Linked DNA regions of Homo sapiens. The protein of the gene in region 1 interacts with the protein of each later gene in a biochemical or structural test. Each region holds a gene or a part of one and is shown on either strand. Other genes may lie near its edges.

The links.
Region 2: the proteins of KCNJ18 (region 1) and SIPA1L2 interact in a test that uses a peptide from one of them, tested with the Homo sapiens proteins (one large-scale study listed by IntAct).
Region 3: the proteins of KCNJ18 (region 1) and MAST2 interact in a test that uses a peptide from one of them, tested with the Homo sapiens proteins (one large-scale study listed by IntAct).
Region 4: the proteins of KCNJ18 (region 1) and TAMALIN interact in a test that uses a peptide from one of them, tested with the Homo sapiens proteins (one large-scale study listed by IntAct).
Region 5: the proteins of KCNJ18 (region 1) and MPP7 interact in a test that uses a peptide from one of them, tested with the Homo sapiens proteins (one large-scale study listed by IntAct).
Region 6: the proteins of KCNJ18 (region 1) and APBA2 interact in a test that uses a peptide from one of them, tested with the Homo sapiens proteins (one large-scale study listed by IntAct).
Region 7: the proteins of KCNJ18 (region 1) and APBA3 interact in a test that uses a peptide from one of them, tested with the Homo sapiens proteins (one large-scale study listed by IntAct).

What each region holds. Positions count from the first base shown.
Region 1 is NC_000017.11:21,691,233-21,695,322, reverse strand, and holds the start of KCNJ18 (inward rectifier potassium channel 18), read right to left. Parts: upstream 2,801-4,090; 5' UTR 2,609-2,800; intron 1-2,608. UniProt on the Homo sapiens protein: Inward rectifier potassium channels are characterized by a greater tendency to allow potassium to flow into the cell rather than out of it.
Region 2 is NC_000001.11:232,623,634-232,627,133, forward strand, and holds part of SIPA1L2 (signal-induced proliferation-associated 1-like protein 2), read right to left. Parts: intron 1-3,500.
Region 3 is NC_000001.11:45,806,612-45,810,111, reverse strand, and holds part of MAST2 (microtubule-associated serine/threonine-protein kinase 2), read right to left. Parts: intron 1-3,500. UniProt on the Homo sapiens protein: Appears to link the dystrophin/utrophin network with microtubule filaments via the syntrophins. Phosphorylation of DMD or UTRN may modulate their affinities for associated proteins. Functions in a multi-protein complex in spermatid maturation.
Region 4 is NC_000012.12:52,005,481-52,009,745, reverse strand, and holds the start of TAMALIN (protein TAMALIN), read right to left. Parts: upstream 2,801-4,265; 5' UTR 2,727-2,800; coding exon 2,481-2,726; exon of another isoform or gene 2,091-2,480; intron 1,925-2,090; exon of another isoform or gene 986-1,924; intron 557-985; coding exon 507-556; intron 1-506. UniProt on the Homo sapiens protein: Plays a role in intracellular trafficking and contributes to the macromolecular organization of group 1 metabotropic glutamate receptors (mGluRs) at synapses.
Region 5 is NC_000010.11:28,055,065-28,058,564, reverse strand, and holds part of MPP7 (MAGUK p55 subfamily member 7), read left to right. Parts: coding exon 1-70; intron 71-715; exon of another isoform or gene 716-919; intron 920-1,941; coding exon 1,942-2,085; intron 2,086-3,500. UniProt on the Homo sapiens protein: Acts as an important adapter that promotes epithelial cell polarity and tight junction formation via its interaction with DLG1. Involved in the assembly of protein complexes at sites of cell-cell contact.
Region 6 is NC_000015.10:29,112,974-29,115,894, forward strand, and holds part of APBA2 (amyloid-beta A4 precursor protein-binding family A member 2), read left to right. Parts: intron 1-902; coding exon 903-1,043; intron 1,044-2,921. UniProt on the Homo sapiens protein: Putative function in synaptic vesicle exocytosis by binding to STXBP1, an essential component of the synaptic vesicle exocytotic machinery. May modulate processing of the amyloid-beta precursor protein (APP) and hence formation of APP-beta.
Region 7 is NC_000019.10:3,755,193-3,758,692, reverse strand, and holds part of APBA3 (amyloid-beta A4 precursor protein-binding family A member 3), read left to right. Parts: intron 1-3,500. UniProt on the Homo sapiens protein: May modulate processing of the amyloid-beta precursor protein (APP) and hence formation of APP-beta. May enhance the activity of HIF1A in macrophages by inhibiting the activity of HIF1AN.

The DNA.
Region 1 (4,090 bases):
AGTGGTTGGGTGTGAGGGTGGATGGCTGTATGGAGGAAGGATGGATGAGTGGATGAATGGGTGAATGGATGAGTGGATGAATGGATAATAGGATGGAAAGATGGATGGATGGATGGATGGATGAATGGATGGATGGATGGATGGTTGGATAGATGGATGGATAAGTGTGAAAGTAGATGATTGGATGGATGGATGAACAGAAGGGTAGATGGGTGGGTGACTGAGCGGATGGGTAGATGAATGAATGGAGGGATAGATGGGTGAATGGGTGGATGGATGGATGGATGGGTGGATGGATGGGTAATGGGTGGGTGGATGGATGGATAGACGAATGGGATGGATGGATGGGCAGATGATTGGGTGGATGGATGGGTGAGTGAATGAGTGGATGGGTGAGTGAAGAAGTGAATGGATAGAGGGATGGCTGGGTGGATGGGTGGGTATATGGTTGAGTGGGTGGATGAACAGATTAATGGATGAATGGGTGACGGGTGCATGGATGGATGGATGGATGGAATGTTGGGTGATGGATGGGTGGAGTGAATGAGTGGATGAGTGGATGGGTGGATAGATGGACAGGTGGATGAGTGTATGGGTGGGTAAAGAAATGAATGGATAGAGGGATGGAAGGGTGGATGGATGGACAGATGGGTGAATGGATGGGTGGGTGGATGGGTGGGTAGATGGATAGATGGATGGGTGGATGGGTGGATGGATGGGTGGGTAGATGGATAGATGGATGGGTGGATGAGTGTGAGGGTGGGTGATGAGTGGGTAGATGGATGGATAGGGTGTTTGGGCAAGTAGGATAGATGACTAGATGGATGAGCAGGTGGGCACATGGCTAACTACATGGATGGGCACACATCAGTAATTTGCCAGAGATTTGCCTTGGGTACACATACATCCTACATGGTCCCTGCAATCCCAAAGATGCAATTTCCCCACCTGTCAAAGGGATCCCCCTGCCTTCCTATCCAGTGTGCCGTGAGAATCAGAGAAGAGGTTGGTGGGAAGGGGCTCTGAGGATCTCCACGGTGAGCCACCTGACATGCTTCTCACCTCCGCACCTCCCAGCCATGGAGTTCATGGGGCCTGCCCTTTCCAAGGTTACAGCCGAGGCTGGTTTGTCACACTGGTTTTTCTGGCTGGAATTAAGGCAACTGTTGGTGAGTCACCCCCACATCATCAGCCTCCTGGGACAGGTGACAGTGGTTTACAGGCACACAGACCTAGATTCAAATCCCAGCTCTGCCCCTCATAAGCTGTGTGACCTTGAGTGAGTCACTTCCCCTCTCTCAGCTTGTTCTGAAATGGGATGGCCTGCCTGGTCTCTAGTGGCCCTTCAGTCCCTCTTCACCCTCCAAGTCCCCCAATCCCCAGCCCCTTCTTCCCCATCCCTCATCATTCTGGGAGCAGAAGCCACAGGCCTACACTTTGCCTCTCTCAGCCATTCCATCCTCAAAACTGATGGGGACACAGAGGTTCAGAGATGGATGGGTGGATGGATGGACGGGTGGATGGATGGACAGGTGGATGAGCTGCAGAGTTTCAGAGAGGTTCTGTCACAAGCCAACATCAAACAGCTGGGGACCTCCACGGCAGGGACTTGGGTCCACCCCCTTCCCCGAGTGAGCCAACACTGTGCTTGGCCCTGCATGCTTGGCAGCTGGCTGCAGTCATCCCGATGCTCACAGCCCTGCCTTGGAGGAGGGACAATTCTCCCCTCTGGACAGATAGGAAAACTGAGGCTGAGAGAAGCTAAGTCACCTGCACAGTCACCTGGAGCTGGAACTCTGAGCAGCGAAGGTCGGATATTGCCACAGGGCCATGGGGAGCCAAGCAGGGGTGGGGGCCAGAAGTGTGGGCAGCAGCATCTATCCACATCCTGCTGGTCACCTGGCTTGCACCAGGCTCTCCCAACCTCGTCCCTCACTCCCTACTACCTGAAAGGGGCATTCCCCAGACCACAAATCCAGCTGGATTTGTTTTTATCTAGGAGGAAGGCAAAATTAGCTCTACTCTACACAGGGGTACTGAGACGTAGAGCAGAGAAGCGAATTTCCTGAAGTCACAGGGCAGGGCAGCACCCTGCAAACAGGAGCCAGCCTTCCGGATGCCCTGGCCAGAGCTCCCGCCACCTGCAGGGGCCACAGCAGCCGCCATGTGAGCTCACCCCGCCAAGTCCCACAAATGCTTCCCGGGGTTATGGTCACAATCCTGGATGGGGAGGTGGGCTGCAGGGGCAGTGCTTCCCCATGACCACGACTGAGGGCCAACAGGCCGGGCTGGCCCACAGCGTCCCGCAGGGGAGGGCAGGGCCTGGGCTGAGGATGGGGCTGAAATCCCCCACGGAACAGGGCAAGGCACTTCCCCTTCCTGAGGCTCAGCTTCCCCTGAAAAATGAGGCTGGTGTCGCCTGCCAGGCCTCTCAGAGGGTGTGCCATGAAATTGAAGGTGGTGACGAAGCTGCAGTCCGGGCACTGGGCCTCGCCCCAGCGGGTCTCTGGGAGGTGGCAGCCGTCACCCTCCCTGGAGAGGCCTGGCAGCCCCCCAGCTGACTGGGGCCTGAAACTCCCCATCTGCAAAATGAGGAGACCCCACACACCTCGGGAGACTGTCACGAGGGTAAGCCAAGCCCTGGCTTCAGTATCTGTCCCACAGAGACGATGCAGCAGTGTGGGTCCTGCAGGCGTTCACTGTGACCGGCGTTCCTGACACCACGTAGGCACTGAAAGCAGAAACAGGCTTCCCAACAGGACGGAAAGCTGACTGTGCCCAAGCCTCCCTGTGGCCTGCTGGATGTCCTCAGAAGCCCCCCTGGCCCGCAAGGAGCCACAAAACGCACAAGGGCAGGATCTGCCTCGCTGTTCCATGCTCGGGATGCGCCCAGCCCACAGAGGATGCTCAGAAAGTGGAAGCTGCAGGAACCTTGAGTGACACTGACCCCTCACATTCTGTGGCGTAAAGATGGGGGCTGGACATATGGACCCCAGAAAGAGGCTGCACCAAGCGGCTAGAAAAGGCAAATGTCCACCCTTAAGCCCTGAGGTGAGGCCAGGTCAGAAGATTCTGGCCCCACAGGGTGGACGACAGTCACACCAAACACCAGGGAATGTTTCTGACGGTATTTTTATCTTGAGAACATCCTTCTTCACAGAGGGTGGGGGCAGGAGGGACAGAGGGTGTCCTTGGCCCCAGGCCCCTGGGAGAAGCAGAGAACAGAGGCCCTGCAGTAGTGCCCTCTGCTGGGGTGGCCATCACAGACACTGCCCCATCCCTGGGCTCCATTAAGTCCCACGAACAGGGGAGACCTGGAGGGTCTTGGGGCCCTTCTAGGACTCCTGGCTCTGCCCCAACTTGCTGTGTGACCTGGAGCAGGGCTCTGTCCCTCTCTGGGTCTCCCTCTTCAAGTCCTCACTGGGCACCGAGGACTTGAAGAGGAAGCATTGGGCGCCTGCCTTCATGGGGCACCCTGCCTCACAGGGCAGACGGTGAGAAGTCAGCAGTCATAAGTCGCTGGGCCCTCTGGAGCCCAGGGGAGGTGTCTAACCCAGTGGCAGGAGGGGTGCTTCCTAGAGGAGTATCTGCCAGTGGGGAGGCAGCAGCGAGCAGCAGGGGTGACAACCCCGCCTGAGACTAACCATAGCACAGTGACACAGCTAAGAGCACCAGAGTCCTGCAGTCTTGGTGCAGATTCCAGCTTCACTCTCCAGGCACTGGGCCTTGGGCAAGACCCACCCTGACTGTGTGCAAACCAGGGGGCTGGCCCAGCTACTCCACAGAAGCCCTGCCAGCCCTCCATTCCAGGATCTAAACTATTCGGGGTTTGTGGGGAAGGTGTGACGAGATGGGCACAGCCTTGACACCATCATATCAGGGAAGCTCAGCGTGTGCAGGCACAGAGGCTGAGGCATCACCCCAGGGGGCCTCAGATGTCATATTAATGAGCCTAGACTTGATCCCAAAGGCAATGGGGAGCCCAAGGGCCATAAGAGAGCTTGAAACTATAAGAGTTCTGGGGCAACAAGGCATGAATTCAAATCCTGTCTCCATCCCTTCTTGTGTGGCCTTGGGCTAGCCACATAAC
Region 2 (3,500 bases), on another chromosome or scaffold:
AAACAGCTGAGTTCAATTAGAAACTTTCTAAGGAGAATAGCATCGCCATTACATTAACCTCCTACCCCTCAATAAATGAAACCCCAAACCAAGACCCACAAGCAATTCTGGAAGAAAACAGGCCAAAGTCAGAAATGTCTTCGGGAAAAAGAATAAATACACAGTAAATATAAGGCCCATCAAGAGTGGAGTTTGTCTTCCGCTTGCCTCACAAGACCCTACAGGCTCCCTAGAAATTCCATTTCTCAACTGCTATAAACTCTAACCAGTGATAGTACAACAGTGGTCTCTACACAGGGGCCACACATTTCAAAGATACAAATGCCCTTGAGATGCAGAGAAAATACTTCTACATCTATTTATTTTTAATATTAATCTTCTTAAAATGTACATTTGTTTTATGTCCATAATATCTTAGCACAGTAAAGTATATGTTTATACATACAGATATATTATACATATACACACACACAAACGTGCATGCAGATATGTATACATGTATACGCATACATACATGAACACTTAGACAATTGTGTATAGATGGGATGCACGTTGAAAAAAGTTTGAGAACCTTGAGAACCTGCTAAAAAGAAACCACTGTTTCTTGCATTAGGCCATTTAAACACCTGAAACAGGTAGCATTTGCCCTGTACAAAGAATCAAAACTATAATTCCTAAAATTACTTATTAGAAACTTCAATACGGAGAGGACAGTATCCCAAAGCTATTCCTGAACAATGTGAATACCCACTGTTCAACAAGGAACCAAATGTGTTATCAAAACCACCTCCAGAAGACAGTGAAAGTAGTTATGCTGACTTCACAGGACACTATGTCTTAAGCATTAACCAGAACTTTCTTTTAAAACTCCACACAATAGTTCATCTCAGCAGACATAATCTTTTATTCACCCAGGAGTTCTTACTTTCCACAATAACAATTTTTAACACTGGCTCTTTACCTAGATATTTTTACTTAAGAGTTTGAATAAACTACCAGATAGCTTACTTCGGACTGTTCTGATTTCTTGAGGAACTCAACTAAATGGGGATATTTCTCAGAAGATTAAGCAAATATGTAGAAGTGAAAAATATGGAGTAATCTAATGGGCAGAGTTCAAGACACCCCTTTTGGCTAAATGTTTATTAGTAAAATAGGAAGAGAAGTATATCAACCAATTAAAACAAAACCGGAAGAGACTGTGGTGTTCTTCCCCACTATCTGAAAGCAATTCAACACAAGAGAATACCAAACCAAAAAATAAGCTGAAGAAAGTCCAACAATATTCTGATTTTTCCTAGAAGCACTGCAGTTCCTAAGGCCTCCGGAGGTCACAGATCACAGTGTGACCCTAGTGTCTCAATCCAGTCAGTCATTTAACACATTTTCTTAATCATATGCAGAAGAGAGTGCTCGTTACTAGGGACACACTGAAAATGAACTCATTATTACTCAGCATAACTTGGTCAGTAGAACCAGCAAAGGAGGTTTGACACACTCTTTCAGGATATCCATGTGGAAAGGTGGAGCTATATGGGCTAGTTATAAGATATGAAGAGCATTAGTAGTTAACTATAACCGAGAGTGTGACTCCTTGTAAGCCTCGAGGGAAGCTTCCAGAGACACACTTCGTGTTGTTCAGCCAGTTTAACAATTTCATCACCGGCTTAAGTAAAGATATAAAAGAGTCTGATCTAATAATGTACAGACAGCATTTCTTTGGGAGGACAGGTAAAGGTGCCAAATAATATAATCAAATTCTAAAAAGCATGATGGAAAGAATCAGCTAAAATAAAGCAAAACCACAGCGCAATAAATGTTAGGTTTTGCAATGACATCAGCGCAAGATGGAAAGACGAGGTTCAATGGCAGCATGTGATTAACGGCTCGGCAGGTTTTAGCGAAAAGGAAACTCGTTGAGTCTGGCCACCAGAAAAGTAAATGCAAACTTGGACTACATCAGTGCAAGCAACATGCAACCTATGACAAGACACTCCTGCTGTACTCTACACAGGTCATGTTCACGGGTCACGTTACACCAAGAGCCCAACTCTGACAGAGACTGAAGGATTTGTTCTGTAGGCCACCAAGGCAGTAGAATTTGAATAAACAAGCAGAATCAGATTTCAATTCTATAGGCCAAAAAACTTTCTAGTACTCAAAACCATTAAAAGGTGGAAATCACCACCCGTTACTTGCAATGTTCAGGTATTACCGGAAGACCACTTACAGAGATTATATAAAAGGATCCAAATATCAAAGAAGGGTTAGTTGAGCTACTCAGTGATTTCTAAACCCCGGTCCTTAGTGAATTTTTCATTGACCCATGCAAAAGAAAAAAGTGTCTGTGTGGGGATAGATATAAATCCACGAGTGGGGTAATTTTAACACAGCTCCTCTCTGGATAGGAAGAACTCTCCTTTAAGTCTGACAGCATACATATTCTTCCCCCTTTCCCCACCTTTTCTCTTTTTTGGTACATCAAAAGGATTTTGACGAAATGCATTGACAATAGGTAGTAACTGCTGTTGTCAATTTTAAACACACTTATGTAGCAACATTAAATGCTGACATATCTGACAATCCCTAATATTTGCTTTTTTTTTTTTTTTTCATTTTACAGGTAGACGAAAACAAAAGGTATAGGAACAACATGACGAGACAATCTTTAAGGTCCTTTCTGGCCCAAAGGAGCATGACAACTAGACTCGACTTGCTGCATATTTTCTTCCTTCCTACCACCCAACTTGGCTATCTAGTACTGGGGGAGAAGAACGAACCAAGGAATTGGGTTGCACTAAATATGAAATCTCTCAAGAAGCAGAACCTCAACAGTGAGTCAAGATCTGGCTCCCTTCTACAGCTGCTGTTCTTTGGAACCAAAGTTTATGAATCCAGTTCAGAAAGGATCAAAATAATCTATGTCTAAAGTTGGGAAGCTTTTAAATTCCTACCACATTGTTACCACACTTTTAAAAGGAGTCACAGCTACATGCAACTGGAACACAAAAAGCAATTTCTGAATCATTGATTTCAAGGTAAACCAAGTAGCTATGACCCTCATGCAAAGCATTCACATACAAACTTACTATAGGCCAAGGCAAAGAAATGACATAATCATGAAAAATATAAACATCCCAGTCAGACAGGCATTTTCATTACTCTAATGCGTTCGTCTTAAACCTTAAAGAAACCCCAAATTTTGGTGCTGAAAGGGATCATGAAAATAGTTTCATCCAAATTCATTTGTGACAGGTGGTAGAGGCAGGAAGCTCAAGGTTCCTGTCTGTGCCTAAAGCTTTTTCTACTCTCACTCTGCAAATGAATTAGGCACATTAACAGAAGTAGAAAACCTAGAACATGGTTCACTATTCTCTAGGACTGTACTTTGTATTTCATTGAAGTTCAAAACAGAAAGAAAAAAAAAAGCAGCTTTTCAATTAACAATACCCTAGTCTAAATTTTCTTCAAATTCAGTGTGTCTTTAAAAGGATTTGTAA
Region 3 (3,500 bases), on another chromosome or scaffold:
CTATTGTGAGCAAAGCCTTTAGCTCTGCATTGTTAGACAAAATGATGACATAGTTCTTACCTTCAATAACATGCAACTTAAAAGCAAAAATGAAATACAAATGAACACAGAAAGTTGAAAGTGCTAAAACACTGATTCATCCTTTCATTCAGCAAATATTTATTCAGCATCTACTTTATATGACCAGGAATGGATCAAACAATATGTTACAGAAACAAAATGAGATAAGACTACTTATTAAGCACCTACTTATTATGTGCTTTCCAGTCATTTTTGCATTTGATCTCTTGGAACCTAAGCTTTCACTTTTAAACCACAGAATTTTGAGAACTGGAATTTCAGGACATTCACAGATTTCCTGAAGCCCAATTAAGGATCCTCCTAGGATCCCATGTGGAAAAACAACTTTGCAGAAGAGTTTCTTTTTGGGTGTGTGGTTTTGTTTTTGTTTTTTGTTTGTTTGTTTTTTGCTTTCTTTACGAGACACGGTCTCATTCTGTCACCCAGACTGGAGTGCAGTGGTACAACCTTGGCTCACTGCAGCCTCAACTTCCAGGGGTCCCACCTCAGCCTCCCAAGTAGCTGGGCCCACAGGCGCGCACCACCAACCCCGACTAATTTTTGTATTTTTTGTAGAGATGGGGTTTCACCATGTTGCTCAGTCTGGTCTCAAACTCCTGAGCTCAAGCAACCCGCCTGCTCAACCTCCCAAAGTGCTGGGATTACAAGTATGAGCCACCACACCTGGCCTCACAGAAGTTTCTGTGGCATTTGAGTTAGGCCTGGAAAACTGAGTAGAATTTTAATATGCGGAAGCAGAGAATAAAGAGCTTCTCAAACTGATGACTAATTAAAGTATATCAAAGTGCCTAACAATAAACAATTACTTACTGAATGTCTATTACATACCAGTTAAAATACTAGAGGCTGAAGATACCATGATGATTAAGACAGCCTCAGAGGAATTCATTTGACTGACTTACAATCAATTAGGACATTGAGCAAATATCTATGTTTCTAATAAATACACAAATAACTATGTTTCAAGTACTATACTAAGCCCTAGGTATACAGAAGTAAATGGAACAGTCTGACTCTCAAAGAACTTACTAATGAGAGAAACAAGATAATTTTAATATTGTATGCCATGATCGAGAAAAGCAGACGGTCCTAAGGAACCAAGAGAAGTGGCAACTAACTGACTCTTCTAACAAAAAGTGCTAAGTATCAAGTAGATCTTGAATGCCAAGGTCTTCAGGCTTAATTCTATGGGTAATAAGAAGCTAATGAAGGTATATGAATAAGGAGAAATGAAATGAACATTTAACGAGTATTTATAAAGCACTTACCATTAGCCAGGGAGGCAATGAGTTCCAATCTTTTGTTAATAGAACGTGAAATATATTAGAGGTTAAGAGACTGAAGACTGAGTAAATACAGTTAAGATACTGCAACAACCAAGACTAAAGTTTATAAATATGAAATTAAGGTAGTGACAATGGGAATAATGGTTTGAAAGATTTCATGAAGGCAGAATCGAGAGAACCTAATGCCAGACTGGCTAAGGGAGTCAAAGGAGAAGAAGTAAAAGACTACAGATGTGGGCCAGGCACGGTGGCTCACGCCTGTAATCCTAATACTTTGGGAGGCCAAGGCGGGTGGATTGCCTGAGCTCAGGAGTTCGAGACCAGCCTGGGCAACACAGTGAAACCCCATCTCTACTAAATACAAAAAATTAGCCAGGCATGCGCTACTCAGGAGGCTGAGACAGGAGAAACGCTTGAACCTGGGAGGCAGAGGTTACAATAAGCCGAGATCGCGCCACTGCACTCCAGCCTGGGCGACAGAGCAAGACTCCATCTCAAAATAAAACAAACAAAAAAAGCCATGGATATAATTTCATGTTGGATGACAAAAAGGAAAGATACAGAGAGAAGCACATTTCAACACAGAAATTATTCTATTTTCATGATACAGTAAACCACTGACCTTCTGGAGATCCAAGTCCTACATCCTGATTAGAACGTATTCTTAAATACTAGTATAATAAAAACTGTAACAAGCACTGTTCCATGTCATGAGAAAGGGAAAAAAAAGTTACGTGTGAGATGTAGATGCTTGCTGATCAGCTGGGCTCTTACTACCCAAATAAATAGAATTCAACCAGTCTCGACACATACAATGAAAATTTTGGCCTTTTTAAAATCATAAATTATTACAAATTATGAACTTTCAAGGTCACTATCAAATTATAAAACTCACAAATGTTAGGCCGGGCACAGTGGCTCACACCTGTAATCCCAGCACTTTGGGAGGCCGAGGTGGGTGGATCACCTGAGGTCAGGAGTTCGAGATCAGCCTGGCCAACATGGTGAAACCCCGTCTCTACTAAAAATACAAAAATTAGCCAGGCGTGGTGGCGGACGCCTGCAATCCCAGCTACTGGGGAGGCTGAAGCTGGAGAATCACTTGAGCCTGGGAGGCGAAGGTTGCAGTGAGCTGAGGTCCCACCACTGCACTCCAGCCTGGGCAACAAAGTGAGACCCTGTCTCAAAAAAAAAAAAAAATCACAAATGTTAAGAACACAAATGATGAGTCTACGGTGGAAATGTTAAGCACAAAAATGGAAATGTAGAGCTAAGGAAAGAGGTCACACCTAAAGAGACTCAGCTCACTTTACAAGGATGTTCTGTGACACAATGCCATAAATAAAGAGGACTGCAGACCCTTGTTCTACATCCTCAACATCTACAAACAGAATGAGCCTGCTAAATAGAGCACAATAAAGGATCAAGCTAAGGACAGAGGACATGTCCTCAAGGAACATTTCAGGAACAGGAAGAGAAAACACAAGACAAAGACACACAAGAGAGCAGTTAGAGAAGCAGTAACAGAATGGATATTATAATATTAAAAAAGAAAAAAATGTCAACAAGGAACACACAGTCAACAGTGACAAATAGTTCACAGAGGTCAGACAAGATGAGGAAAAGACTATCAGATTTAGTAATTTAAAGGTTCCCAGGACTTTTACATATTTCTCTCTGTAACTATTTCACAATGAAAACTTTTCACAAGTAGCCATGAATTATATTTCAATTTGAAAAACAAACTGGGCACTCATGCCCATAATCCCAGCACTTTGGGAGGTCAAGGTGGGAGAATCACTTGAGCCCAGGAGTTCGAGGCTAGCCTGAGCAACATGGTAAGATACCACCTCTACAAAAAATAAAAAATTAGGCCGTGGTAGTTCACGCCTGTAATCCCAGCACTTTGGGAGGCCAAGGCGGGCAGATCATCTGAGGTTAGGAGCTCGTGACTAGCCTGGCCAACATGGTGAAACCCCATCTCCACTAAAAATAGAGAATTAGCCAGGCATGGTGGTGCATGCCTGTAATCCCAGCTACTCGGGAGGCTGAGGCAAGAGAATCGCTTGAATCCGGGAGGCAGAGGTTGCAGTGAGCTGAGAATGTGCCGCTGCACTCCAGCCTGGGCGAGAG
Region 4 (4,265 bases), on another chromosome or scaffold:
GCACCTACTTCTGCCCACGCTCAGATCCCTCCTAAGAGGGCTGCCACAGGCTGGGACCAGAAGAGGACTGACATTCTGGAGGCAGGGGCAGCCAGCCCCAAGCAGCTGGACACAGCCTGGCTAAGGTCTGGGCCCGTGGGGTTTGCCAAGGCTAGGAGGGCTCAGGGGAGCCCAGGAGGCCTGGGTTAGGACGTTCCCCATAGACTTTGCCTACACCCCCTCCCAACTCCCACATCCGTTCATCCAGATCTCCCCAGGGAGGGGTAACTGGCAGGGACTGGGGGTGTGTTGAAGAGCACCTAATGACTCAAAAGTCCCTACCTCCTTTCTCTGCCACCCCCTTCACACAGCCCTCACCCCCACCTGCCCTCACTCCCAGCGGGGGAGCCATGTTTAAAGGCTAGGAGAATGACTACCCTCGCTAGGCTGAGATGCTGTCCTGGCACCCCCCAACCCAGCACCTCACCCCTTTGGACCATGGCAGGGGCTGGGTGTTGGTGACTCACCGCTGCTGTTCAGGACTCTGGCTGAGATTCTTCCAGCGGAATCCTGAGCCCTGGGCAGTAAGATGGTCAGAAGGAGCAGGTAAGGCGGGACTGTCCTTGAGCAGACACTGAGAGGTTACCCTGGACACAGCGACCCACTTCCTGTCTGCCCCTTCCCAGCTCCACATCCACACCTGTTTTGGTGCTGGTGGAACTATTTGCCAAGTGCCACTACTGGCACCACTCCTCAACTTTCTCTACAGGCCTTACCTTCATACCTGGGACTGCAGGGACACAACCATCCTCCTGGGTTCCAGATCCATGAACCTCTAAGCCCTTGCTGGTTTCCACACTGGCAGCAGGTGGGGAGATCATTATTCTAAAATGGTCTCCACCCCTAGGGCCCATGTCTGTAGAGGCTCAGGCCATCCAGACTCCCAAAGCTGAGGCAGGGGCTCTTCCCCAGTGGGATTCAGAGGATAGGTGTCCCCTGGGCTCACCTATCAAGGTGCTCCGAGGACCTTCTGCCAGTTGGGTCTCTCCATCTAATTTCTCAGCTACAGACAGTGGCTTGGGAGGGCTGGGGTCAGGGACCCTGTCCCGAAGGGCTGGCAATCCCAGCCAGAATGTGGGGTCAGAGGTGCCAGGTCTCCTAAGGTACAGGCCGTTTCAAGGACCAGTTGTGGATCCCAGCTGCAGGTGACCAGCTGTGCCCAGCTATACCTGGGTCTCTCTCTCCATTGCCATATATTTTGTGCTTTCTGGGACAAAACATCTTAGATGTCAAACTTGTCAGCAAGTCTCACTAAAGGACCGAGACTGGGAGTTCTTTAGGGGTGGTGGTGGGGGGTGTGGAGGAAGGATGAGAGATGAAGGTTCCTGTCTCTTCAGGGTCCTTGATAAACTAAAGTAGTCTCTCACCCTCCCTAACTTTTTGGTCCTGGGAGGAGGTCCAGTCCCAGAGCAGCCCTTTTCTTTGGAGCCTGCACAGCCCAGGGCCTTTCTGTTCTGTGCCTTTGCTAACCCTCCCCCAAAGCTGCCCAAGGCAAGGAAGAGAAGGTTCAGAACCAGATTGGCCTCAGGGGTGGGGACAGTTCCCAAACGGCCAGGGAGGAAGGACTGGGCAGCACAGAGAGACCCCTTTGTCTTTCAACATGATTTTCATAAAATGCAAATTCTCAACAAGCTGTTCATTGTGTGGGGGCTAGCTGGGGGCCGGGGCGAAGGAGGGCGGCTGGGTGAGGAAAGGCCACCAGGCCCCTCTTCTTAACCTGGTGTTGTGTAGGTTCTGAGCCTCAGGTCTCCTGGGGCCAGAGGAAGAGGCTGGCAGAGGGGACTCAGAGGTGGGCGCGGCCCGCATCCTTCCTGCCCCGCGGGCGCCCTGCGACCCCTCCCACTGCGTCCGGTTCCGACAGAAGTCCAGGGAGCAGTGGCCCTCGCGCCCCGTACGTCAGACGTGGGGCCAGGCGGCAGGCCCCCAGCCCAGGAATCGGGGAGTCCCCTCGGAAGGGTGTGCTATCCGGAGTCAGCGGCTCCCCACGCACTTCCTCAGAGTGAGAACGCACGCGGCGCAGCCACCGGCCCGCTTCTCCCACCGGGGGCTCTCGGACCTTCAACTTGCCTGGGGCTGTCTCTGTCCCTCGGGCGAGGGGCTCCTGGGGACCCAGGACACCTGGCCACGGGGAGGCGGGGCATGGGGGGCAGAAAGCCAGATGGAGCGGGTAGGAGAAGGGGGGTGCTGGGAGGAGTCAAGGAGGGAGAGAGGGGGCGTGCATGGGGCGCGGAGTTAAGAGCCACCGAGCCTGGGCGCGGTGTGCAGGCGAGGGCCACGGCCTTCGCAGCAGCGGGGAACGCGGGGAGTCGAGGCACCCAGCGGGCCGGGGAAGAAGGTGGGGGACTCCGCGGACGCCGAGGAGAGGGCACTGCGGAGTCAGCAGGCCCTGTAGGGAGTCGGAGAGGGGCTGAGCAGATCCTGAAGGCGGGCGGGGGACGCACCTTTCGGCGGGGCAGGGTGCCCCCGGACACGGCGAGCGCGCGGTACAGCTCGGCAGGGTGATAGTCCTCCAGCGCCGCGTACAGCTCGTCCGCTGGGGGCCCAGGGGTGGCGGCTGCGGCAGGGGGTCCCGGGGTCGGGACCGGAGCGGCGGGCGCGACTTCCGAGTCGGGAGTCCGGGCGGCGGGGTCCGGGGTGGCCGCCGCCTCCTCCTTCTGCTGCAGCTTCCTGAGTCGGCGGAGGGTCATGGCTCCGGCGCCGGACGCCCCTCAGAGACGGCGCTGGCTCCCCTCGGCGGGGCTGGCGGCGGCTGGGGGATGCCAGCCGGGCGGGCCGCGGGTCGCCTCCCTTTATAGGCTCCGAGAGCGGGGCGGGGTTGGGGGCGGGCGGGGAGCTGCCTCGGGTGGCCTCGCCCCCAGCACGGAGGACCCTCCCCGCGAGGCGCCGCCGCCCTGGAGCCCCGCCCACGGCGCTCGACGGCCGGGGAAACTGCGGGAGCTGGGCGCTCAGTGGGGGAAAACGAGCCGCGGACGCGAAGGGGCGGGATGAGGCCCCCGGGGCGGGGCTCGGGGCTCGGGGCTGCGTGATACCTGGAGGGGTCTGTGAAGGGACATTGCGCAAGGTTTGAAATTTAGGGACGAATAGCTCTGGCGATTCATGGAGTGGGGCACGGTAAGAGGTCACTGTAAGAAGCCTGGGGAGTCGGGGAGGTAGGGAGAGTCACGGAGATCCAAGGGGCTGCAGGAGACTCCAGGGCAGGGAGAGCGGCAGCGGGGCTGCGCAGGAGTAGGGGTGGAGGCCCGATGGAGGAGGGAGGAGACTCCCTGAACTCACTGCGCAGAAGCCCCCAGGGAGGGAGAGGGCCCAGGATTTTCCCTTGACGCAGCTGCCCCAGAAGAGCTGAAAGAGGCTGCCCCCTGTTCGCACGTCTAGGAAGAAGGGAAGAGGTGGAAACCCTGAAAGCAGTAGGCTTAGTTCTGGCCTGTCCCCTCCAAGGGGCTTGAGTGATCCCTGCTGGCAACACCTTTCCTCAGCTCCTGATGCCGGGGTCAGATCCCCCTTCCCAGGAGACAGACGCTTACTGTGGACTTGACTCAGGAGGTTGGGATGAGCCCAGGCTGAGTGGGAGTTCAGGGCTGGGGGGATGGCCATGCTCAGCCGTTCTCTGACCCCATCTTAGGGACCATCCCCCAGGCTGTTACCATGGCTGCCAGGCGGTAGGAGAGGCGGGAATGGCCCAGCCGAAGTCTCTGTCGTCAGTGGTGCCCGAATAAGAAGTGAGAGGAGGAAGTGGAAGGCAGCGTCTGGTGTCTAAAGAGCGGCTAGCCACCACAGGGCGTCAGCAGCACAGGCTGGGGACTCCATGTCCCAACACCCATCGGCCAAGAAGCAGAGGCGGCAATGCGGTGCCCTTGTCTGTCCCCTCCCTCCTCCCCCAGTCTTCCCAAATCTGTTATGCCTTCACAGTTAACATTTATTGAGCACTTAGCATGTGCTATGCACACTGTTTGTTCTGTGTGTCCTTTTACATACATGCATTAACTCACTTGGTCTTCATAACAACCCTACGAAATAAGCACCATTATCCTCCCTTACAGATGAGGAAACTGAGGCCCAGAGAAGATAAGTAATTTGCCCTAAGTCACTCAGCGGCAGAGCTGAGATTCAAAGCCAGGCAGCCTGGTTCCAGAGCCTGCAATCTAACCACTCTGTGATGTTGTCCAACATTTAAGCCCTGCTGTGTGCCAGGTACTGGCTGGGCACTGGGGTTACAGAGGCTCTTGGCC
Region 5 (3,500 bases), on another chromosome or scaffold:
CACAAGTATAGACTCAGTTCGGTCTGTCCTTGCTAAAAACAAAGTTTGTTTGTTGGATGTTCAGCCTCATGTAAGTAAACAATGAGCTATTCAATACCCTTCTGACCCATGTCATCTACAGCACCTCATGTGAGCATTTCAGTATGAAATAATATGAAGTCAACTCACTTTTGGCATATATGTGGCTTTTCTGAGATGGCAAAAGCATTTAAATATAATTGGAGACATCTTTGGTGGAGAAAAAGAAAAGCCCATAATATTATTAGAAAGAGAAGTGGAGGAAGCTCCAAGACCTGTGTTTGTAACTCTTATTTATATTCAGTTTTTGTCAAGTAAAGCAACTCTTAGATGTTTCTACATATTCTGTATTTTTAAAAAATACATCACATTGTTACATGCATAATGCATTCTTATGTGTTATGTATTAGTAACAGTGTCTATAATTTTTAACGATGGACATTTTGGTTCCAAGTCTTTGACTTTGGTTCTGTATATATCCTAGCAAATAACCCCCCACTAGAACTGAAGGGCATTTTGCAGGAAATGTACTGAATGAAAGCCCCATTGCAACTGCCATGTCTGCACCTGTCATCCTGGAAACTCCATTATGAACATTCTGAACTGAGAACTTCAGTGGATGAGGCCATTCAATTCCCTATCAAACCATACATCTTCCAGCAGATCCCCAGCCCACAGCATTTTCCTCATCCCCCAGGGACCATGGTTTCTCCTTCCACTGATGGCTGTACCCTGGGGTGCAAAACCTCCAAATGCTAGAATGACCTGCGGAAGCCCTTTGGACCTCTAAAGGAAGATGAATCTGGAGTAAAAGTGTTTCAAGAATCAGGAAGGCTGCCTCCTGACTTGGGCACTGTGTTAGTCCCTTGTTGCACTGCTCTGAAGAAATACCTGAAACTGGGTAATTTACTAAAAAAAAAAAAAAAAAAAAAAAAAAAAAAGAGGTTTAATTGGCTCACTGCTCTGCAGACTGTACAGGAAGCGTGATGCTGGCATCTGCTCAGCTCTGGGGAGGCCTCAGGAAACTTGCAATCATGGCGGAAAGCAAAGGAGGAGGGTTGAGCACTTCACATGGCCAGAGCAGGAGGAAGAGAGAGAGAGGAGCGAGGTGCCACACACTTTTAAACAACAGGGTCTCACGAGAACTGACTATTGTGATGACAGCACCAAGGGGGATGGTGTTAAACCCCGGGAAAATGCCCCTATGATCCAGTCACCTCCCACAGGCTGCACCTACAGCAGTGGGGATTACATTACAACATGAGATTTGGGTGTGGACACAGATCCAAACCATATCAGGCACCAACAGTGAATGGGACAGTCCTGCTTATGCAGAGCCTCTCTGCTGGTGTCCCAGGTCCAGTTGCTGTCAGACTCCCACAGTGTAGTATCAGCTCATGAATAATAACTTTCAGCTCTCACCCTCTGTAGATAGGTCCCCAGAAGTATAGAGTATAGAACATCAAAGATTTGATGAAGGAATCTAGACAGGCATCATGGAGAGCAGGAGGCTGCCCTTGTAGGGTACTCTGAAGGATAGGGTGAAAGAGGAGAACTCCTGCCTGAAATCAGAAAGGGGCTTAAAAGGGATGGTTGGAAGACATTTGTGGACAGAAAGTTATTTAACTCATCACACCTTTGGAATATTTGATCTAAAAACCAGTTTTGTGATATTTTTAGTCACTTCTGTTCAATGTTAATTATGATGTATTTCAGAACATTTTAAAATGCCAAGTTACATTCCCCAGCTTCTTTTCAGAAGTGTTTGTTACATTTAATTGTCAACAGTTAATTGAATAATAATATATTGAAATGACTACTGACCTTAAAGAATAATTTTGAGGAATTTTCTCCTAGAAAGAAAATTCAGTAATTCATGATGCTATGGAGAAATGTGAGAAAACTTTCTTTTCTTCCTTGTAGACAGTGAAGCATTTAAGGACACTAGAATTTAAGCCCTATGTGATATTTATAAAGCCTCCATCAATAGAGCGTTTGAGAGAAACAAGAAAAAATGCAAAGATTATTTCAAGCAGAGATGACCAAGGTGCTGCAAAACCCTTCACAGTAAGTATAATGATGCTTGGGGGCCAGGTGTGGTGGCCCACACCTGTAATCCCAGCACTTTGGGAGGCCGAAGCAGGAGGATCATTTGAGTCCAGGAGTTCAAGACCAGCCTGGCCAAGGTGGTGAAACCCCATCTCTACAAAAAATATGGAAATTAGCCAGGCATGATGGTTGGACACCTGTAGTCCCAGCTACTTGGGAGGCGGAGGTGGGAAGATCATAAGACCCCAGGAGACTGAGAGTGTAGTGAGCTGAGATCACACTACTACACTCCAGCCTGGTAGGCAGAGGTGGGAAGATCACAAGACCCCAGGAGACTGAGAGTGCAGTGAGCTGAGATCACACCACTACACTCCAGCCTGGGCGACAGAGTGAGACCCTGTCTCAACAACAACCACAAAAAGCTTGGAGATAAGATATAAGCAGTAGATAAGATGTAAGATACAGTTGTATATATGAAAACATATATACAGCTGCATGTACTTGGGAAGAGTATAATAGATACAAAAATCAGTGAAAGAATTGTATTTAGGTACATACCTTTTGAACAGTTACACTTCTTGTGCTTTGGTGAATGGATCTTCATATTCAATTGACTCAAAACTATTTTGTATACTATTATGTGAACATTTCATACTATTGTAGGCTGAACATTTGTATAAAATCTAGACCAATTAATTTTCAGAGCAGCCTTATTTTTAAAGCTAAAAATACCATCAGTAACTGTTACTCATTAAGAGTCCAAATGAAAAATTTAATAATGTGCCTTGCTTGTCTCCTTGTGTCAACAATTATATTTAGCACAGCAAAAGAAAATCACTATTTTGGGTATAGGATAAGTAGACCAATATTATTCAGCAATAATATTTGTATTTTCTATGAGTGTTATTGGAAATGATGATTGTGGTATATTCATGACTATTATGGGTTCTGGCAAGACCTTTTATTGTTTTTCTTCTTAATCTTAATATATTCTACCTTTGGACCAAAAATCAAAAGCAAAGAAATTAAATGTGAAGAGCTTATTTTTTTCTTGCCCCTCTTAATTAGCTCATCATTAACTTTAGTTTATATTAATTTATGAACTGTTCATTGTGGTTACAAAATACAGATCACATTTCTGATTCCCAGTATATTTGATAAATACCTTTTTTTACATGCCAACAGTACATATCCGTTCTGAGTAGGTACTGTCATACAATGTTAGTTACTCAGGCTCTTGATCAACACTAAAATTAAATTTTCTGTTATTGTGAAATCTTATGTGACAATGAAATGCAGACTCAAATTATTTCAGCATGTTGCAACATAAAGATTTATTGTACTATTTAGACATTTTAAAGGTTTCTCAACGAAGATAAGAAAGGATCACATATTCTTAGGATTTGGCTCTCTTACATTTATGTTATATAGCC
Region 6 (2,921 bases), on another chromosome or scaffold:
TGTTTCATGCAGCATAGTGTCCCCGAGGTCTGTCCGTGTTGTAGCACACTTCAGACTCTCCCTCCTCTCCAGGGCTGAGTACTGTTTCCCTGCAGGCCTAGAGCACATTCTGTTTCTCCGCTAGTCCGTGCTGTCACCCTCGGCTGTTGTGAACACTGCTGCTGTGAACACGGGTGTGCACGGCGCCTGTTTTCCATTCTGTCCAGTCTCGTGGTCACAGGCGCTCCCAGGCCCTCCTGTCCATCTGTTTGGCGTCACTTTTAGGCTGGAATGGAAGCCCCCACCGCTGCACTCCAGCCTGGGTGACAGAATGAGACCCTGTCTCCAACAAAACCAGAACCAGTATATTTGGCACAAAATGCCCTTACGTCACTTGGCGGGGGGGGGATGTAGGAATAAAGTGACTCTTCCCTGTCGATGTAGACCATTTGGGCATCCGGCAAACAGAGCCTTCCCTTGACAGAACAGATGCCCCACCTTTCTGGTGGCCAGGGGACAGGCTGCCTCTCCTTTCCCGCCCGCCCATCAGCTAAGTGCCTGTCTTCCAGGATGGTAACCAGGCTGTGCCGTAGGAGGCCAGGTGGCAGTGGCCTTGGGCTGTGTCACCAGTCTCTAGCCTGACCACAAAGGGAGCGGCCCTGGGGGAGGTGCAGCTGGGGGACAGGTTCCACCGTGGGAGTCAGAAAACTTGGTGGTTCCCCACACACCATGGCATTAACTCTCTTGTTTTAAAGAAACATACTGCATATCATAAGGATCTCTGTCTGTGAGTCAGCGAATTGCACGTGCACGTATTCATCATGTGGCGCTTTTCCCTCTGCATGTCCCATCTTTGGGGACGTGGTGGAGCGCCTGTCGGGTGTGGCGGGAACACGTGTGCTGACCTGGCCATGTCTGCTTAGATCTGCAGCCTCATGAGAGGGGGCATTGCTGAGCGAGGGGGCGTCCGTGTGGGCCACCGCATCATCGAGATCAACGGGCAGAGCGTGGTGGCCACAGCCCACGAGAAGATAGTCCAAGCTCTGTCCAACTCGGTCGGAGAGGTAAGGAGGGACTTTGAGTGTGCCTCTGCATGCCGGTTCCCACGTGCTCCCGCCTGCCCTCCATGAGCCTCCCCCGCTCCAGAGGACACAGGGCATCTGAAGGTCAGCCAGGCTGTGTCTCCCATCGGGGCTGCTGTGACAAGGGTGAATGGAGCGGCAGGTGATGCGGAGCCATCCCGGTCTGGCTCTAACTGAGCAACCGGGAGGGCACAGGCTGCTGGGGGTGCTCCCTGGACACTACTTTTGGGACTGGACCTGTATGTCCAGTTCAGAAGCTCTGCAGGGCACACAGCTCTGGCCACCCTGGCAGGCTTGCCTCTCTGCCCTTGCTGGCCATCCCCTCCCACAGCCAGGCTGCTTGCCCTGTCCCACTTCACTGGCTGAACCCCCCACAGTCCAGTTCTTTCTGGCATCGCTTCCACGGCAGTGTGAGGATGGTGTGGGGGAGGTGCAGGTTTTCCTCCAGAGCTCACAAGGAGGCAGGATCATTGGGAGGGGGGATGGTGCTGGGGAGGTGGCACATACACCGGGGGAGGCCTGGCCAGTGCGCAGCGGGTGTGCGTGTGTGTGTGTGTGTAGTGTGAGCGAGTGTGGGTGTGTGCATGTGGATGTGTGAGAGCATGGGTGTGTGTGGGATGTGATGTATGAGTGTGGGTAAGTGTGGGTAGGTGTGGGAAATGAGTGTGTGCGTGCACGTGGGTGTATAGGGGTGCATGAGTGGATGGGTGTGGGTGTGTGGCTGTGTGAATGTACCTGAGTGTGCGTGTGGAGGAGTGTGTGTGTGTGGGTGAGTGTATGCGGATGTACGTGTGTGTGTGAGAGCATGGGGTGTGTAGGAGTGCGAGTGTGGGTGTGTGCAGGGGTGTGTGGCTGTGGGTGTGTGTGAGCATGGGGTGTCAAGCATGAGTGTGTATGTGTGCACGGCTGTGGCTGTGGGTCTGTGAGTGGGTGTGAGGCATGGGGTGTGAGGAGAGTGTGAGTGGGTGTGTCTGTGTGTGTGTAGGGGTGTGTGAAGGGGTGTTCAGCACAAAGGGGCTGCAGGCTCTCTGGGAAGCGTGGTGGCCGCACGAGGCGGGAGGCTGAGAGCTGAGGAGCCCGGCCTACAGAGGGGCCCGCTGGGGACCGGGCAGGGAATTTGGGTCTGGGGACAGCAGCAGCAGGCCGGGCCGTCTGTGGTGCTCCCCCTGGTGGCTCTGTGAGGCTGAGTGCGTGGCGACCATCCTTGCAGCCTGTGGGTGGGCGGGTGGGTGGAGGGGTCTCTAGTTCCTGTTCTTCGGATGAGGTCTCCAGGAGCCACATCGGGACACTGGTATTTTGTGCACTGCAGGGTCGGCTGGGAGCTGGGAGGCCTGTTTTCCCTGGACTGGTGGGGGCAGGGGTCTGGCTCAGGAGGAGGAGGGGCCAGGCGGACACCAGCCTCCCTTTGATGGCTTCAAAGAAAGGAAAAGCCAGTGTTCCCAAGTAGATGCTTTGAAGCGGCCGCCCCCACGGCCAGCAGCCCCACACCTGTGAGGAAATCCACCCGTGGAGGAGCGGGCGGGAGAACGGGGAAGAGGCAGGAGGCGGCCGGGGCGTTGGAATCCTTTCAGCCCTGCCGAGGTTATGGTGCCTGTTTCCAGCAGCTCTGAGCCCACGCGGAACATGAGTCGCTGATAAACAAGGCTTGCAGTTGCGAGGGGCCTCGGGGTGGGTTTCTGGTTGAGGAACGCCGGGGAATGGCTGATGGAGGAAGCCCCTGCCGGGAGCAGGAGCAGCGGAAACCTACATCGGCCACACAGATCCCGGCGGGGGAGGGAGGGCAACGCTCAGAAGCAGAGCTGCGCGATGTGCCTTTCTGGGCTGCTCAGCCCAGGGCCCGAGACCTGCTTGCCTGAGGAG
Region 7 (3,500 bases), on another chromosome or scaffold:
TTGGCCAGGCTGGTGTTGAACTCCTGACCTTGTGATCCGCCCGCCTTGGCCTCCTAAAGTGCTAGGATTACAAGCGTGAGCCACCACGCCTGGCCAAAGAATACTATTTCTTGACATGTGAAAATGATATGCTAGGCTGGATATGGTGGCTCACACGTGTAATCCCAGCTCTTTGGGAGGCTGAGGCAGGAGGATCGCTTGAGCCGGGAGTTGGAGACCAGCCTGGGCAACGTAGCAAGACCCCATCTCTACAAAAAATGTTTAAAGTTAGCCAGGTGTGGCGGTGCATGCCTGTAGTCCCAGCTACTCAGGAGGTTGAGGCGGGAGAAGTTCTTGAGCCCAGGAGGTCGAGACTGCGGTGAGCTGAGATCACCCCACGCCACTGCACTACAGCCTAGGCAACAGAGCGAGACTCTGTCTCAAAAATAAAAAAATGCAATTCAAATTTCAGTGTGCATAAGCTGGGCGCGGTGGCTCACGCCTATAATCCCAGCACTTTGGGAGGCCAAGGTGGGCAGATCACTAGGTCAGGAGTTCGAGACCAGCCTGGCCAACATTGGTGAAACCCCGTCTCTACTAAACATACAAAAATTAGCCGGGCATGGTAGTGCACGCCTGTAATCCCAGCTACTCAGGAGGCTGAGGCAGGAGAATCACATGAACCCGGGAGGCGGAGGTTGCGGTGAGCTGAGATCACGCCATTGCACTCCAGCCTGGGCAATAGAGTGAGACTCTGTCTCTAAAAAAAGAAAAACAAATTTCAGTGTACATAAATAAAGTTTTATTGGTACACATCATGCTTGGTTATTCATGTGTTGTCCATGGCTGCTCTGATGTTCGAATGGCAGAGGTGAGTAGCTGCAGCAGATACCTTGTGACCTACAAGGCTGAAAATATTTACTCTTTGGCCCTTTACAGAAAATGTTTGCCAAGCCCTGCCCTAAAAGCATGGGAAGAACAATTTCTGGCCCTCTGGAATGTTCTAGACTTTTTTTTTCAGTGGTGCAATCTCAGCTCACTTCAACCTCTGCCGCCCGGATTCAAGTGATTCTCCTGCTTCAGCCTCCTGAGTAGCTGAGATTACAAGCGTCCGCCACCGTGCCCAGCTAATTTTTATATTTTTAGTAGAGACGGCGTTTCACCGTCTTGGTCAGGCTGGTCTCAAACTCCTGACCTTGTGATCCACCCGCCTCGGCCTCCCAAAATGCTGGGATTACAGGTGTGAGCCACCGCGGCCAGCCTCTGTTCTACACTTCGCTAAGGATATAGGTCAGATAGTAAGTTCTGGCCGGGAAGGGTGGCTCACATCTGTAATCCCAACACTTTGAAAGGCTGATGTGGGAGGATCGCTTGAGCCCAGGAGTTCGAGACCAGCCTGGGCCACACAGCAAAACCCTGTCTCCACAAAAATAAAATCCCCCCCCAAAATTAGCCAGGCACGTGGCATGGGTCTATAATCCCAGCTACTTGGGAGGCTGAGGTGGGAGGATCACTTGAGGCTGCAGTGAGCTAAGATTGTGCCACTGCACTCCAGCCTGGGTGACAGTGAGACCATGTCTCAAAAAAAAGAAAAAAAAAAACAGTTCTGTGGTTGCAGAGAGAAAAACTGGTTTGAACCTATAGCTCTAAGAAGGTTCTAGAATCGAGCAGAGCTGTGACACCTAGGGAGTTCCAGGGCTTGGCATTTTGTCTGTTTCTAGGGTAAAGGAATCTGGGCTGATGAGAATGCTCAGAATTGGTGAACAGAGGCATCTGGTTCTACTCAGACTGGAGAATTCTAGAACCATGGAGGGAATAGTTATCTAGTGTTCTATAACCCTGGGCAGAGCTGTCCAATTATAGTGTAATCAGAAAGTTCTAGATGGAACTACAATAGAAATACAACGTGAGCCATATGTGATTTAAAATTTTGTAGTTATCCACGTTAAAAAATTAAAAACAGGTGAAATAACTTTTTTTTTTTTTAAACTGAGACGGAGTCTCGCTCTGTCGCCCAGGCTGCAGTGCAGTGGCACGATCTCAGCTCACCGCAACCTCCGCCTCCCAGCTTCAAGCGATTCTCTCGCCTCAGCCTCCTGAGTAACTGGAACTATAGGCATACGCCACCATACCTGGCTAAGAAATTAACTTTAATAACATTTTAATTAAGCTAACATATTTAAAATATTATTTCAACATACAATCAATATTTTTAATTTACTTTTTTATTTTTTTGAGACACAGTCTCACCTTGTTGCCCAGGCTGGAGTGCAATGGCGCAATCTTGGCTCACTGCAACCTCTGCCTCCTGGGTTCAAGTGATTCTCCTTCCTTAGCCTCCCGAGTAGCTGGGATTACAGGCGCCTGCCACCATGCCCAGCTAATTTTGGTATTTTTAGTAGAGACGGGGTTTCACCATGTTGGCCAGGCTGGTCTCAAACTCCTGACCTCAGGTGATCCGCCCGCCTCTGCCTCCCAAAGTGCTGGGATTACAGGCGTGAACCACCATGCCTGACCTTAAATTACTTTTTTTCATACCAAATCTTCAATATCTAGTGTGTATTTTCTATTTACATCTCTATTCAGTCGAGCCACATTTCAAGTCTGTGATAGATACATGTGCCTGGTGGCTACCACAGTGAATGACGTATCTCTCTAGAACCCCAGAGTGGAGCTCTTGTTCCAGAATGCTTAGATCCTGAAGGATAGTGGGCAGAACCGACTGTGGTGTAGGGTGAATTTCACTTAGTGGTGTCCAGAACGGGGCCCTACACCCGTGGTTCTAAACCAAAGAGCCGTAGTTACTGGTTAGAATGTTCTAGGGCCACTGGCAGAGCTGTCTGGCTCTGGGTAGCTCAGGGAATTCTAGAACCATGAGAGTAAAGCTTTTTTTTTTTTTTCCTTTTTGTTTTTGGAGATGGAATCTTGCTCTGTCACCCAGGCTGGTGTGCAGTGGTGCGATCTCTCTCGGCTCACTGCAACCTCCACCTCCTGGGTTCAAGTGATTCTCCCGCCTCAGCTTTCAAGTAGCTGGGATTATAGGCACGCGCCACCACGCCCAGCTAATTTTGTATTTTTAGTAGAGACGGGGTTTCGCCATGTTGGCCAGGCAGGTCTCGAACTCCTGACCTCAGGTGATCCACCCCCCCCCCCCGGCCTCCTAAAGTGCTGGGGTTACAGACGTGAGCCACCGCACCCAGCCAGGAGTAAAGCTTTATGTAGTTCTGGGCTGGGTTGGGAGTATTCTGGAACTGTCTAGAATTCTCCTGGAACAGAATTGTTTGTTCCTTGACTGGTCAGGTAATTCTTAGAATCCCTGGTGTAGCCAAAGGTGTGAACTACTGAAGGAGATTCTAGAACCACAGGAAGAGCTGCCTGACGCGATTGTGATTAAGATGTTCTGGAATCACGGAGCAGAGAAGTCTGATTCTAGAGTGATAATAAGATTCTAAAACTCCTGACAGAATTGCTATGAGACCTGTCAGAGAGTTCTGGAATCAAGGGTCAGAACCAGCTGGGGT